Homo sapiens: one gene and its partner. The protein of the gene in region 2 interacts with the protein of the main gene of each other region in a biochemical or structural test. Each region holds a gene or a part of one and is shown on either strand. Other genes may lie near its edges.

Region 1 (7,027 bases), on a different chromosome or scaffold from region 2:
AGTCTTGGGCCACAAATAACATACAATAACACTAATGATAGCTGGAACTTAAAAAAAAGCACAAAATCTCATAATGTTTTAAGGAAGTTTACAAATTTGTGTTGGGCCACATTCAAAGCCATCCTGGGCCACATGCAGCCCATGAGTTGGACAAGCTTGCTCTAGATCCTCACCTGAGGGATTTCTGCTCAAATGGGACAGCCTCTAAGAACTTTCCCTAAGCAGTCCCCACTCCAGTCATTCTCTCTCCCCTTATAATGTTTTATTTCCTTCATAGCACTACTTACTTATTTAAGTCTGTCTCCCTTACTAGAATGTAAGCTCCATGTGGGCAGAAAGTTTGTCAGTTTTGTCCACTGTTACATCTTGAGTGTTCAATAAATATTGGGTAAACTAATGTATGGAAATGAGGGACATACAGCAAGTAAAAGTACTCGATTCCTTTCTGAAAATCTCAATACTTTCCACTAATTCCATTCTGTTTTTATCTATATATGAAGTCCTCTCAACTTCATTTGCAGATTCCTGGTAGCTTCTAACGCCATGGAATGGTTAAATCCGTAATTCCTAAAGCTGGCTTCACATCAGAATCAACTAGAGTGCTTTCAATAAACTGCCTTTCAAACCTGTAATAAGGCACAGGGCCCAGGTGATTCTGACATAGCTCATCCAATTTTCTAGATGAGGGGTTGGCAAACTCTTTCTGTAAAGGGCCAGATAGAAAATATTTAGGCTTCGTGGGCCGTATGGCCTCTGTTGTAACTACTAAACTCTGCCATATGGCACAAAAGCAGCTACAGACAACATGTAAACACATGGACATGGCTGTGTACCAATACAAATGGTGGGGCCAGATTTGGACCAGGCTGTAGTTTGGCAACTCTTGCTGGACCATGTTTCTCAAAAATTAATGTGCATACAAACCATATGAAGAGCTTGTTAAAATGCAGATTCTAATTCAGAAAATCTGGGGTAGGGCCTGAGCTGAAGCACTGCTAACAAGCTCCCAGGTGGTGCTGATGGTATCAGCATATGGACCAGCAAGGCATAACTTTAGCACTGGGTGCCAAACTTTACTGAATGCCACTATATCCTGTGAGGAATGATTTGACTGTTTTTTAATATGATTTCACATAATATGATCATACATTTTACAGGAAGAAGAATAAAGAACCTTGTTATATAGTTAGATTTTGTAACACAAGGCAACTAGGAACAATACTCTAAACACATTTTATGGTTCATAAAGAAATAAACTTGGCAAAAACTCCATTCAAAAATTCCTCATTAATAATGAAAGGACAGATATTCATTCACACACCTACCTATAAATAACATGGAATGCTTTCGTGCAAATTTCAGGCCTTCATTTCTATCGACTTCACGATTTTCCTAAAATATAAATGCAATGATTAAGAAAGGCTACCAAAATATAGAACCAAAATGCCAAGTGTCTGCCTTCTTACCTTATCGATTTTATTTCCAACTAGCATGTTTACTATGTCATTTCTTGTACAGTATGTTTCCAATTCATTTAACCAATTATCCAGTTTAACAAATGTATCTCTTCTTGTGACATCATAAACTGAAATAAAAGGAGTCATTTGTTAAATAAGCATTAAAGAAAGAAGCAATGGCGTATTTCTGATATGTAGCTAGGAGTTAGCATTACTAAGCAATATAGACAAGTCTTTTTTTTATTGTCTTCAACGATTAATATTGAGTGTCTACTGATCCAAATGGAAGAAACAAGTGTTTTTTTTTTAAAGCATACACATTTCAATCCTATTAACATATACTGTCACAGAAATGAAATTATATCCTGTGTAATAAGTGAAAACACATTTAATACCCATTAAAGCAAAACAACAGCTATTCCCATTCATAATGATGAATGAGGTCTATCCAAAAACCAGAGTGTTTAGATTCAAATCTGTGGCAAAATATTAAAAAAAAAATACATGAATGTAAACATCTATGACCCCATTAATTTGTTTATTACAAGAACCAAAATTTACAGCTTTGAAAAAATTGTAGTACAGTTAGTAGATGGGTTCCTGGTGGTCTTCCTGTTATCACTTTCATCTTATGTCATTCTGCATTATAACAAAAACCTTATTAAAGTGTTTTATAAACTCAAGAGATGCTGAACCAAAAGGCTGTCACTACCAAGCCATAATATTTAAAAAAAGAGAATTCTACCTATTAATACAATTGATCAATATTCATTTTAAACAGTTTCCCAGGAATATCAAGAACAAGCACTTTTCAACAAATTACACTGAGAATCCACATCTGGTTTCTAAATTTTGTTTGATTATAAATCAATAGTGTTAAGTGCTTTGTGATATTTTTAGGACTAATAAAGCAGATTCTACTAATCAACAAATACTTTTCGTCCTTTATAAACTACAGCAAATATTAATATGCTGATAACAGAAGCCCAGTTTCTGTAATACTCCAAGACAGTCCAACATATGCTGATTAATCCTCAATTACGTTCTCATTGACATGTGTTTTCAAACCAAATAAATTAGCCTTGTCTATTTTTTAAGTGCTAGACAAGACTAAAATCAAAAGTTTTAATATTCATTAATATTACATGAAGTTAATACAACTACAAGTTACATAAAAGTAGCTCTAACGAGAAGTAAAACAAAGACATATTAACTTTCACAGACTAGGACAATCAGAAACTCCAATAAATATTTTTAAATAGTACATTAAAGTAAACACTTACCTAATATAACACCCTGTGCACCTCTATAATAGCTGGGAGTTAATGTTCTAAACCTCTCTTGACCAGCAGTATCCTAAAAATGATCATTATTATTAAATTAAACAAAGTATAAATAGACCTTCAATATACTAGTTTAAGAGTAGAAAGTCAAACAGCATTACTAAAAATAGTATTAATGCATGAGCTCATTAAAAAACTGGAACTTAAATAAGATGTGTTCGCTTACTGACAAGTGTCACAAAATAAAATTATTTATAAATACTGATCTCTAGAAAAATGAAACTATGTAAAGGTTTTCTGCTGTTTTGAATTTAAGACTTTTATCATACATGAAATGAAACCCATGGTTCTAAACTCCAGCTGCACAATGAAATTTTCTGGGAATCTTGAGTCTAGCTTCCAAAAAATTTCTGCTTAATTGGTCTAAGGTAATGACAGGAATTTTTTTTTTTTTAAATCTTACCAGGTGCTTTTAATGTAGAATCAAGGCTGAGAACCACTGATTTGAAGAAAATTATGGGATGTCTTACTTTAGGTAACAGATTTTTAGGTTGGGCTCTTTTAAGTGTTTTCTATGTATCTCCTTTTGAGAAAATGCATATAACCAAGCCATTCTTTATTACATGTTATTTCTGACTCATGTTAGGGTTAGTGAACAATGTACACTAGGTAGAAAATGTAAATTTCATAAAGCAGGGACTCATCTGTTTAATCACCAGTTTAACCATTGTGCTGAGACCAATTCTTGAAAAAAGGCAGTTGCTCAGAATTTGTTGAGAAAAAAAAAAAAGAATGAACCTATTTAACAAGCCTTTACTTCCGGGCCCAATTCCTTCTCTCTCTTGTCTTTCTACCATCCTTGGACTATGGATTCAAGGTACCTAAGATTATACAAAGCAGCTCAGCCCACCACCTGTTTTATTAAATAAAGTTTTATTGAAACACAGCAGGCCTATTTGCTTACGTATTGCCACATGGCCCACTTCAGGATTGGACTATTTCCTATCTGGCTCTTTAAGAAAAAGTTTGCAGTCTGCTGATGCAAAGTAACCTAAAGAAAAGTAAAAGTAAAAACATGTATCAAACCTCAACTTAGCTACCAGTCCCACTGCTGTAAATGAGGGTTTGTTATGGGACAAGCAGAAGCTCCCCCAGATATAAAAATGTTAGAATAACCTGTAAGAGGTTTATAAGATTGGAGAAGAATTCAAACCAGGGGCGTGAGGGGCTTCAGCAAGACAGTAGGGAGGATCTGCAGTCATTTATAACCCCAGAAGAGAAACTTAAGAGGAAAGTAACGTTTCAATGTAAACCACTTTGAACATTCACCACTCTTCCACAGATACACTTACATAAATTTGAAAGCCTTTCCTTCCAGATCCTTACCACCACAGAAACTAATCCCCACCCTGCCATGCTTAAGTGAAGAATTAACAGATTTAAAGTAAATGTTCTGAACAGATAAATTTATAAAATAAATAATTTTTCTCTTTACAAAAATTCTCTCTGCCTCTAAGTTTCTTACAAAACCTGCCTTGGATTTTAAAATTATTCAATTTGCATATTTACTCACCTTTTCAAGAACAATAATATAAATTAAAAGCTGTTTAAAGCAAAGTGAACTTGCTATATAAAGCAGATTATAACTTTGATAACATGAGACAAGTCAATATTGTAGTCCATTAATCATTAATGAAACGGTATATGGATGCCCAGTGATCTTTTTTGATCACTATGCTCAAGTAATCAAAACCCAAATTTGCAGGGAAAAAAAAAGTAATCAACTAGAAGCCAAAAGATGTAACTACTATGCATATCATAGTAAAATGATTACTATGTGTATCAGTAAAAGTGTCACCACTTTTAGGAAGCAATTGGTAATATATATAATAAGAAACTAGAAATGCTCTTCATAGCCTTGTACTAGTACCTATTTCAGACAATCTGATTCATACTCAATAAAAAATGTATATTTTTAAATGACAAATCATTATGAGAACGTATCCTAGCTATCTGCTTACATGCAAAAAATGACAAATTAGTAATATTCAAATTATTCAGTATCCAGATACATTATAACTTTGAGAACTGCACCATGTTAAGCATTTAACTTTTAGTAGTACAGACTATCTGTTTTAGAGAGAAAGAAAAAAAAAAAAGAAGGAAAAGCCATTACTGAAAAGACAAGCCTTGGATTTGGAACAGTGAATTACTGAATTTGGAAATTTAAGAAGCAGCTATTTTTCTATACAGTGAATTAGTGAATTTGGAAATTTAAGAAGCAGCTATTTTTCCATACATGGAACACTGTTCTATATTCATAACAAATAGTTTGAGGCAAGGACCAAGTATGAAATATTTTAGCCCCAAGACTTTTTGATAACAGGAAGAAAGTTTATTCTATTTGCATAAGGAAACTGTATCCATAACTTCCAGAGCTGGCAGAAAAACAAGTGAACATGAACTTTGTTCTCTCTGGTCTTCATTGAGATCAACTTCAAAAACTGCCTTAATGAAACACAACATAAAAATCAGAACTGCAATTCCAGTTAAAATATCCATAAATCCTGATGTTTTAAAAGTAAAAACCATAGCAAGAAAGTTTTAATGTTGAAATATTACACTTGACTTTGAAACTTTGCTTGTGAATATTTATTAATAATTAGGCCAGATGTTTAGAGGCTTGCCATTTTTGGATTCACTTACAAAAGTGTTTAAATAGGTGTTATAATTTAGGGGGTGGAGGGAACCATGTGCAATAGCATCGCATCAGGATTTATAGTAACTATAAAGTGTATATGCTTAAATAGAAGTTAGATTGTTGCTTGTGTTTGTTTTCAAAACAGGAATATGTGGTAGGTATAATAACATCTTTGTAAGATAAATGAAGCACAGCTTTTTGTCTCTATCCTGTAGTTTTATTTTCTGATGGGGGAAGGAGAGAAGAAATTACTGAAAGATATATAGATAAACTCAGGGCTAGGAAAGATCTAGAAAGGCTTAATAATAGATGTAGGGAGTGAAAGTGAAGCAAGGACATAGGAAAAGGCAGTAGAAGAAAACAAGGTCATGATGAGTATGCACTTTCAGGAGGTAGGAGGGGCAGGGCTATGCTTAATTATTCTATTTCATCCTAGAAGAAGCTTCCAAGTAGGAGAGAAACTCATTTTATAAATAAAACTATAGAAGAATTAGGCAACTATGGATTCATATATTTCTAATACAGAGGAAACGCCTTCCTAAATACGTTACACCCAAATGCCATGATGAAAATAGCTGATCCAACCATATAAATATTAAAACCTTGAAATGACAAGAACACCCTTTACCTCCTCTTCACCTCCCCATCCCCATATTCATCCTTAACAATATTGGAAGGTAAATGACAAACTGGAAAAAAAAATCTGTAGCATATGGCAGTATTACACACACACACAAGAACACAAACATATATTCAACTGATACATGATTTTAAAGGCAAATGATAGCTTAGAAAATTGTACCACATGACAAAGAGCTAATAATTTTATTATATAAAGACTTTAATGAAGAAAAAGATGAATGCTAACGTATAAAATGGGTAAAATATGTAAAAAGAAAACTTATTTTTTAAAATGATCAATAAACAGGCAAAAATCTCTTATCAAAAGAAATGCAAATATAAGTAAAACAGCAACACTCAGAGGCAAAAACAGAAAGAATGATAACAGTAGAGATAAGGATGTGGCAGAATGAATATGAATACAATTGGTGGGAGTATAAACTGAAAAAAAAGGCTTTTTGGTGTACATTAATGTGAAGACTTCATATTCATTTCTACTTCCAGCTACACATTCTAAAGTAACTGGACAAGTACACACAGACGTATAAATCAGGATGCTCAAAGAGCTGTAATCTTTGTGAAAAGCTGGCAAAAATGTAAGTATCTCTCACTGAAGGCTGACTAAAGTACAGCTATGAAACGGAATACTAGCTGGCCATCTAAACGGATACAGCACATACTATGAGTGGGGGTGAGGTGGTAGGAAAGGAGGACAAACAGGTTTAAAAATGTAAGATATAATATAATCCCTTTGTTTTGGAAAACTCACATACTGGTATGTATAGTGGTATGTATACATATCCCTTGATATTTTAAAGAATGCTCACTAAAATGTATTCAGTGGTATACTTTTATAGATGTTCTTCTCTGCTCTTCTTATTGTCTCAATTATCCCTTTTAGAATGACCCTGTATTATTCTTACAGCCAGGGGGAAAACCTCTCTTCTTTAAAAAATGTTTATAGG
Region 2 (7,027 bases):
GAATCTTTTCCTCTTACAGACGTAATGTATGTAGGGTCACCAGCAATAGGATAATGTTGACCAGGCAACGAAACCAAACATTAAAGACTGAATGTCTTAGTCTGTACAAAATAAACTTCGCCAAGCCAAATGCACTGATAGAATACCATTTATGCTGTCAGACAGTACCTATTTATTCTTTATTTGCATTCAGATCTAATAACTATTCTACCTAATATCTGTGACCACACAAGCTCCACGAGGACAGGAATTCTTGTGTTTTGTTCTCTGCTATGTAGACAATTATCTCAATTCTTGGCACATCATAAGCACTCAAATATTCAACGGTATTAGTAATGTTTTATTTCTTAACGAGTGGTTAGTATATGAGTGTTATACTATTCTTTTGTTGTTGTTGTTGTTGTTGTTTTTGAAGACGGAGTCTCGCTCTGTCACCCAGGCTGGAGTGCAGTGGCGCAATCTTGGCTCACTGCAACCTCCACCTCCCAGGTTCAAGCGATTCTCCTGCCTCAGCCTCCTGAGTAGCTGGGATTACAGGCATGCGCCACCACGCCTGGCTAATTTTTGTATTTTTAGTAAAGATGGGGTTTCACCATGTGGTCAGGCTGGTCTCAAACTCCCGACCTCATGATCCGCCCACCTCAGCCTCCCAAAGTGCTGGGATTACAGGCGTTAGCCACCGTGCCCGGCCTATACTAATCTTTATCTCTTTTGTCTTAATCATTTTTTTTTTTTTTTTTTTGAGATGGAGTCTTGCTCTGTCACCCAGGCTGGAGTGCACTGGCGCAATCTCGGCTCACTGCAACCTCCGCCTCCCAGGTTCAAGCAATTCTCCTGCCTCAGCCTCCAGAGTAGCGAGGACTACAGGCATGCACCACCAAGTGCGGCTAATTTTTGTATTTTTGGTAGAGATGGGGTTTCCGCATGTTGGCCAGGCTGGTCTTGAACTCCTGACCTCAGGTGATCCGCCCACCTCGGGCTCCCACAGTGCTGGGATTACAGGCGTGAGCCACCGCGCCCAGCCAATTGTAATATTTTTTAAAAGCACTAAATACATTTTACAAACCTCATAGCATTGCAATTATTCGGAAAGTCATCCAGAATAGAGTTACGAAATAAATATACAAAAATAGAACCTGAACTCATTCAGATTTATGACTTTTATTTTGTAGGGCACACCCTCAAGCTACCACTCAGCATTACTGACTCTCAACTCATACAAAATTCTCACAACCTTGGTTATCTGATTTCTCAAAACCACAATGAATCAAAGTGACTTTAAGAAAGCAGATATACGGATAGAAAAGATAGCAAATTCCAAAAGAAGAAATAAATTATTCTAAGAAAGCAAGGAAATATTAAGTTTTTAGAAAATTATATTTTCAATATTGCTAAGTTTGAGGGTCCTTAAAAGATAAATTACTTTATGGCCCTGGGCATGCTTTCAGATAAGTTATACATTCAATGGTTTGTTATTTTTTATTTTTTTCATATTTAATTAAATCAAGGGTTATTGCTAAGATCTCTTACTTTTATATCCTCTTAGATTATTTTATACTAACAACATTATATTCAAAGGTAATAGTGTCTCACTTATATAAATTTGCTAATTAACCTAAGTTGTTTTGTGGTTGTTATGGTTTTTTTTTTTTTTTTTTTTTTTTTTTTGAGACAGGGTCTCACTCTGTCGCCCAGGCTAGAGTGCAGTGACATGATCATAGCTCACTGTAACCTCCAATTCCTGGGCTCAAACAATCCTCCTGCTTCTGCCTCCTGAGTAGCTAGGACTACAGGCATGTGCCACGACCCCTGGTTAACTGTTCTTTTCTTTTTGTAGAGATGGGGTCTCACTACATTGCCCAAACTGGTCTCCAACTTCTGGACTCAAGCAATCCTCCCAACTCAGCCTCCCCAAGTGCTGGGATTACAGGCTTGAGCCACTGTGCCTGGCCTAACCTAAGTTTTAACACATAGTTTCATAATCAATCAACTAATCTGTATTGGGAATAGGAAGAAAAAATGAAAATAAACCAACCTAAAAAGTGATCAAAGTTTTATACTCATCAAATTATATAACTTATAGAGGCCTTAGAAATTGTGTACATAAACTCCCAATTTTATAAATGAATAAATTGAGGGCCAGTCGCAGTGGCTCATGCCTGTAATCCTACCACTTTGGGAGGCCAAAGAAAGTAGATCACTTGAGTCCAGGAGTTCAAGACCAGCCTGGGCAATGTGGTGAAACCTCATCTCTACAAAAAAAAAAAAAAAATACAAAAATTGGTTGGGCGTGGTGGCTCATGCCTGTAATCCCAGCACTTTGGGAGGCCAAGGCAGTCAGATGGCTTGATCTCAGGAGTTCGAGACCAGTCTGAGCAACATAGTAAAACCTCATCTCTACCAAAAATATAAAAAAATTAGCCAGGCATTGTGGCACACACCTGTGGTGCCAGCTACTTGGGAGGCTGAGGGGGGAGGATTGCCTGAGCCCAGGAGGTGGAGGTTGCAGTGAGCTGAGATCTTGCCACTGCAACTCCAACCTGGGCAACAGAGTGATATCTCATCTCAAAAATAAAAATTTTAAAAATAAAAAAAAATTACAAAAATTAGCCAGCTGTGGTGGCGTGTGCCTGGACAGAGCAAGACCTTGTCTCAAAAAAAAAAAAAAATTAATTAATTAAAAAAAGTGAGGTACAGCACTGTGGCTACATTACATGCTCCCTTGCTTCTCTAATATGTAAATTCTAGTATCTAACAACAGAGATTACTTTTTCAGAATAACATAAAATGACTAACAAACCTGTTTTAAACCAGGAACTTAAACAGAAATTTAATACTGCCATATAAAATCACCCCAAGGTGTTAATTGAGTCCTTAGGCATTTTAAGATGCTATATGAGATTCTGTGTATGATACTAAAAAGTTTTTAAATGACCTTTGTATTTGAAGATCATATGGCTGAGAAGACAAAGGGGAAGATTAAAAATAAAAAGTTAATATGTCAAGTGTTAAATTACAATATGGTCAGGTGCGGTGGCTCACGCCTGTAATCCCAGCACTTTGGGAGGCTGAGGTGGGCCAATCACTTGAGGTCAAGAGTTCGAGACCAGCCTGGCCAACATGGTGAAACCTCATCTCTACTAAAAATACAAAAATTAGCCAGGTGTGGTGGCACGTGCCTGTAATCTCAGCTACTCGGGAGGCTGAGGCACGAGAATCACTTGAACCTGGGAGGCAGAGGTTGCAGTGAGCTGAGATCCCGCTGCTGCACTTCAGCCTGGGTGACAGAGCGAAATTCTATCTCAAAAAAAAAAAAAAGTATTAAATTACAATAATACAAAAACAAAAGTTATGATAAAACTGAACAATATAAGCAATATGATAAATGAAGAGGTAATATATTAACTCAAAAGAGAGTAAGGCCAGGTGAAGTGGCTCACACCTGCAATCCCAGCACTTTGGGAGGCCAAGGAAGACGATCGCTTGAGGCCAGGAGTTCAAGACCAGCCTGGCCAACACGGAGAAACCCCATCTCTACTAAAAATACAAAAATTAGCCGAGTGTGATGGTGCACAACTGTAAGTCCCAGCTACACGGGAGGCTGAGGCAGGAAAATCACTTGAACCCAGGAGGTGGAGGCTGCAGTGAGCCACTGTACTCCAGCCTGTGACAGAGTGAGAGTAAAACAAAAATGGACTAGATTTGTCAAATAAGGCTTCGTAGATAATAATAGCTTTTTATATGAGTACTCAGTATACAAAGAGAAATGTGACTGATATGGAGAATGTGACAAGTGCCAAATATTTTCTTCCTTAAAAAAATTTGGCCGGGCGCAGTGGCTCACGCCTGTAATCTCAGCACTTTGGGAGGCTGAGGTGGGCGGATCACCTGAGGTCAGGAGTTCAAGACCAGCCTGCCCAACATGGTGAAACTCTGTCTCTACTAAAAACACAAAAATTAGCCGGGCGTGGTGGCGTGTGCCTGTAGTCCCAGCTACTCAGGAGGCTGAGCCAGAAGAATCGCTTGAACCCGGGAGGTGGAGATTGCAGTAAGCCAAGATCATGCCACTGCACTCCAGCCTGGGCGACAGAGTGAGATTCCATCTCAAAAAAAAAAAACAAAAAACAAAAAAAAAAAACTTATGGAGGAAAATAAGTTTTATTACTAAGGCATCATACATCTCTCCTATCCATTTATCATCAGTGAATTGAGCATCTTTAATGTATATGAACCAAATTCAGTATGTTGATTCTTAATTTCTTGGCACTTGAAAGGAATCTGGAGATAAATAAAGCATGAAAATGTACCACAGTCATCATTTAAGATCACAATGGGTGGTAAAGGTAGGTATTAACAGATCTTCCACTTACAGTAATGGTGAACTAAACGACTGGACCAACCCTCCCTCAAAAAAAAAAAAAAAAAAGCCAACATAAAAAGCTGAAAGAAATGAAAAAAAAAATGTAATTGCATAAAATCCTAACAAGAAAGGTAAAATGAGGAAAATAAGATAAACCATATATTCTGTCTAAAGGCATTTGCTGACTGTGGAAAGATGGCTGAGAGGTAGAGTGGCACTTCTTGTAGGGAGGAGAAGGTGGGCTCACTGCGAATCTGCTGGAAGCACTGAGAAGCAAGCTGCCATTTCTGGCAGACTAATAGAGCTGCACAAATGGGAATGGAAGTTCCATATTCTGCCAAAGGAGGAGACACACACTTTGGAAGTAAGGTTACAAATTCTATCCCAAGACCACCCAGGTAAACCAAAAAAATTCTGAAGCCTTGATTATACACTGTTAGCACCCTCAGGTAATGAAATTTCTCTCTAGAATCAACAAAAGCAACAGACAATCGCAACAACCAAAACGTCAAATACTGACTGGAGTTATCAGAAAGAGCATGATACAATTATGCTTACAATGTTCATGGGGATAAAGACAAGCTTTAAAGTTTCAGCAACAGACCAGGAGCCATAAAAAGTATCATTGGAAAAAAGAACCACCAGAAATTACAGAGCTAAAAAATACAACCCAACTTAGAAACTCAATGGAGTACTTAACGGCAGATTAAACACAGTTGAAGAAGTGATAAACTAGAAGGTAGGCCTGAAGAACTAATCCAGAATAAAGCATTGAAATGGAAAAGACAGAGTAAGAGGCCTAGAGGTTATAGTCAGTGGGCCTGACAGGGATTTCACCGGAGCCTAGAGGAGAAACAGAATGGGGCAGAGGCAACATTTAAAGAGATACAGGCCAAGCACAGTAGCCCACACCTGTAATCCCAACACTTTTGTAGGCCGAGGCAGGAGAATCCCTTGAGCCCAGGAGTTCGAGACCTGCCTGGGCAACATAGGGAGACCCCATCTGTACCAAAAAAAATGTTTTTAAATTAGCCAGGCATGGTGTCACGTGCCTATAGTCCCAGCTACTCAGGAGGCTAAGGCGAGAAGATTGCTTGAGCCAAGCATGTTAAGGCTGTAGTAAGCCATGATCTCTCTACTGCACTCAAGCCAGGGCAACAGAGCAAGACCCTGTCTCTAAAATAAAATAAAGAGATATAACTGAAGACATCTCAAGACTGATGAAATGATTTAATCCATTGATTCAGGAAACCCAGTGAAGCTTAACCAGGATAATGTGACAGAGTGCTTACAAAAAACGGCCACAATATAATTTCACTCCCAGTACCCATGTCCCTTTACAATACAACTTTGTAGCTCTTCATATCAAAAGGTAGAGTTTATTTCCCTACCCCTTGAATCTGGGGTTAACCAATAAAACGTGGTAGAAATGAAGTGCTAGTTCTGAGCCCAGACCTCGAGAGGCCTTGTATGTGTTTGTCTTTTGGAACCCTGCTGCTGTCACATGAACAGGCTCAGACTAACATACTGGCTAATGAGATATGTAGCCCAGTCAACTATATTGCCCCAGCCAACAAGCCAGCCAATCCACAGAAGCAGAGCTGCCTACCTGGCCTGGCTGGCAGCTAACTATAGACCCACATGGGAGCCCATGTGGAACCAAGACCACGTGGAGCAGAAAAGAACCATACAGCTGGGCCCAATCCAAACTACCAACCTACAGAATTATAAGCTAAATAAGTGACTGTTGTTTTAAGCCCTAAGTTTTGGGGTTTATTTCACAGCAAAGGGTAACTGACATAGAAAAGTAAAAACAAATCCACAGACATATCATAATGAAGCTACACAAAATTAAAGACAAAATCTTAAAAACAGGTAAGTGCTGGCCAGGCGCGGTGGCTCACGCCTGTAATCCCAGCACTTTGGGAGGCCAAGGCAGGTGGATCACAAGGTCAAAAGATCGAGACCATCCTGGCCAACATGGTGAAACCCTGTCTCTACTAAAAATACAAAAAAAAGTAGTCGGGTGTGGTGGCATGCACCTGTAGTCCCAGCTACTTGGGAGGCTGAGGCAGAAGAATCGGTTGAACCCGGGAGGCAGAGGTTGCAGTGAGCCGAGATCGCGCCACTGCACTCCAGCCTAGGCAACAAGAGTGAAACTCCATCTCAAAACAAAACAAAACAAACAAACAAACAAAAAAAACAGGTAAGTGCTAATATAATTTTTAGGAGAGAGAAATCATTGGATGGGGTTGATCTTTAAACATTCTAAGTATTTCAATTTAATAACAGTAGGAAGACAGGCATTCTAGGCAAAAATAATCACTATCTGAAGTGTAGTCAATTTTTTTTTGTGAAAATAAGGCCAAAAAGGTAGATGTGTTTGTTTAGAGTTAAGGGCTCATAGGCAAGCAGATATGGACTGTCTTCTAGCTTCACCACTAGCTGTGTGACCTCAGAGCAAGGTATTTCAACTCTGTACTTTGGTTTTCTCTTATTATAATGTAAATAATATCACTACTATCACCTACTCCTACTTGTTAAGGATTTTTAAATGTAAGTAATGTTGTGCTTCGCACAGTAAACTCTAGATGTTATTGACTTTCACTCTAGAGATGAAAACCACTAAAACTGTTGTGTTTGGGACAACAAAGAGAGAATCAGAAT

What was found. The genes of interacting proteins can lie anywhere in the genome.
Region 1: the proteins of COPS4 (region 2) and RAB18 form a complex in vitro, tested with the Homo sapiens proteins (one study listed by BioGRID).

Annotation. Positions count from the first base shown.
Region 1 is NC_000010.11:27,528,293-27,535,319, reverse strand, and holds part of RAB18 (ras-related protein Rab-18), read right to left. Parts: intron 3,792-7,027; coding exon of another isoform or gene 3,705-3,791; intron 2,814-3,704; coding exon 2,741-2,813; intron 1,586-2,740; coding exon 1,467-1,585; intron 1,393-1,466; coding exon 1,326-1,392; intron 1-1,325. UniProt on the Homo sapiens protein: The small GTPases Rab are key regulators of intracellular membrane trafficking, from the formation of transport vesicles to their fusion with membranes.
Region 2 is NC_000004.12:83,038,160-83,045,186, reverse strand, and holds part of COPS4 (COP9 signalosome complex subunit 4), read right to left. Parts: intron 1-7,027. UniProt on the Homo sapiens protein: Component of the COP9 signalosome complex (CSN), a complex involved in various cellular and developmental processes.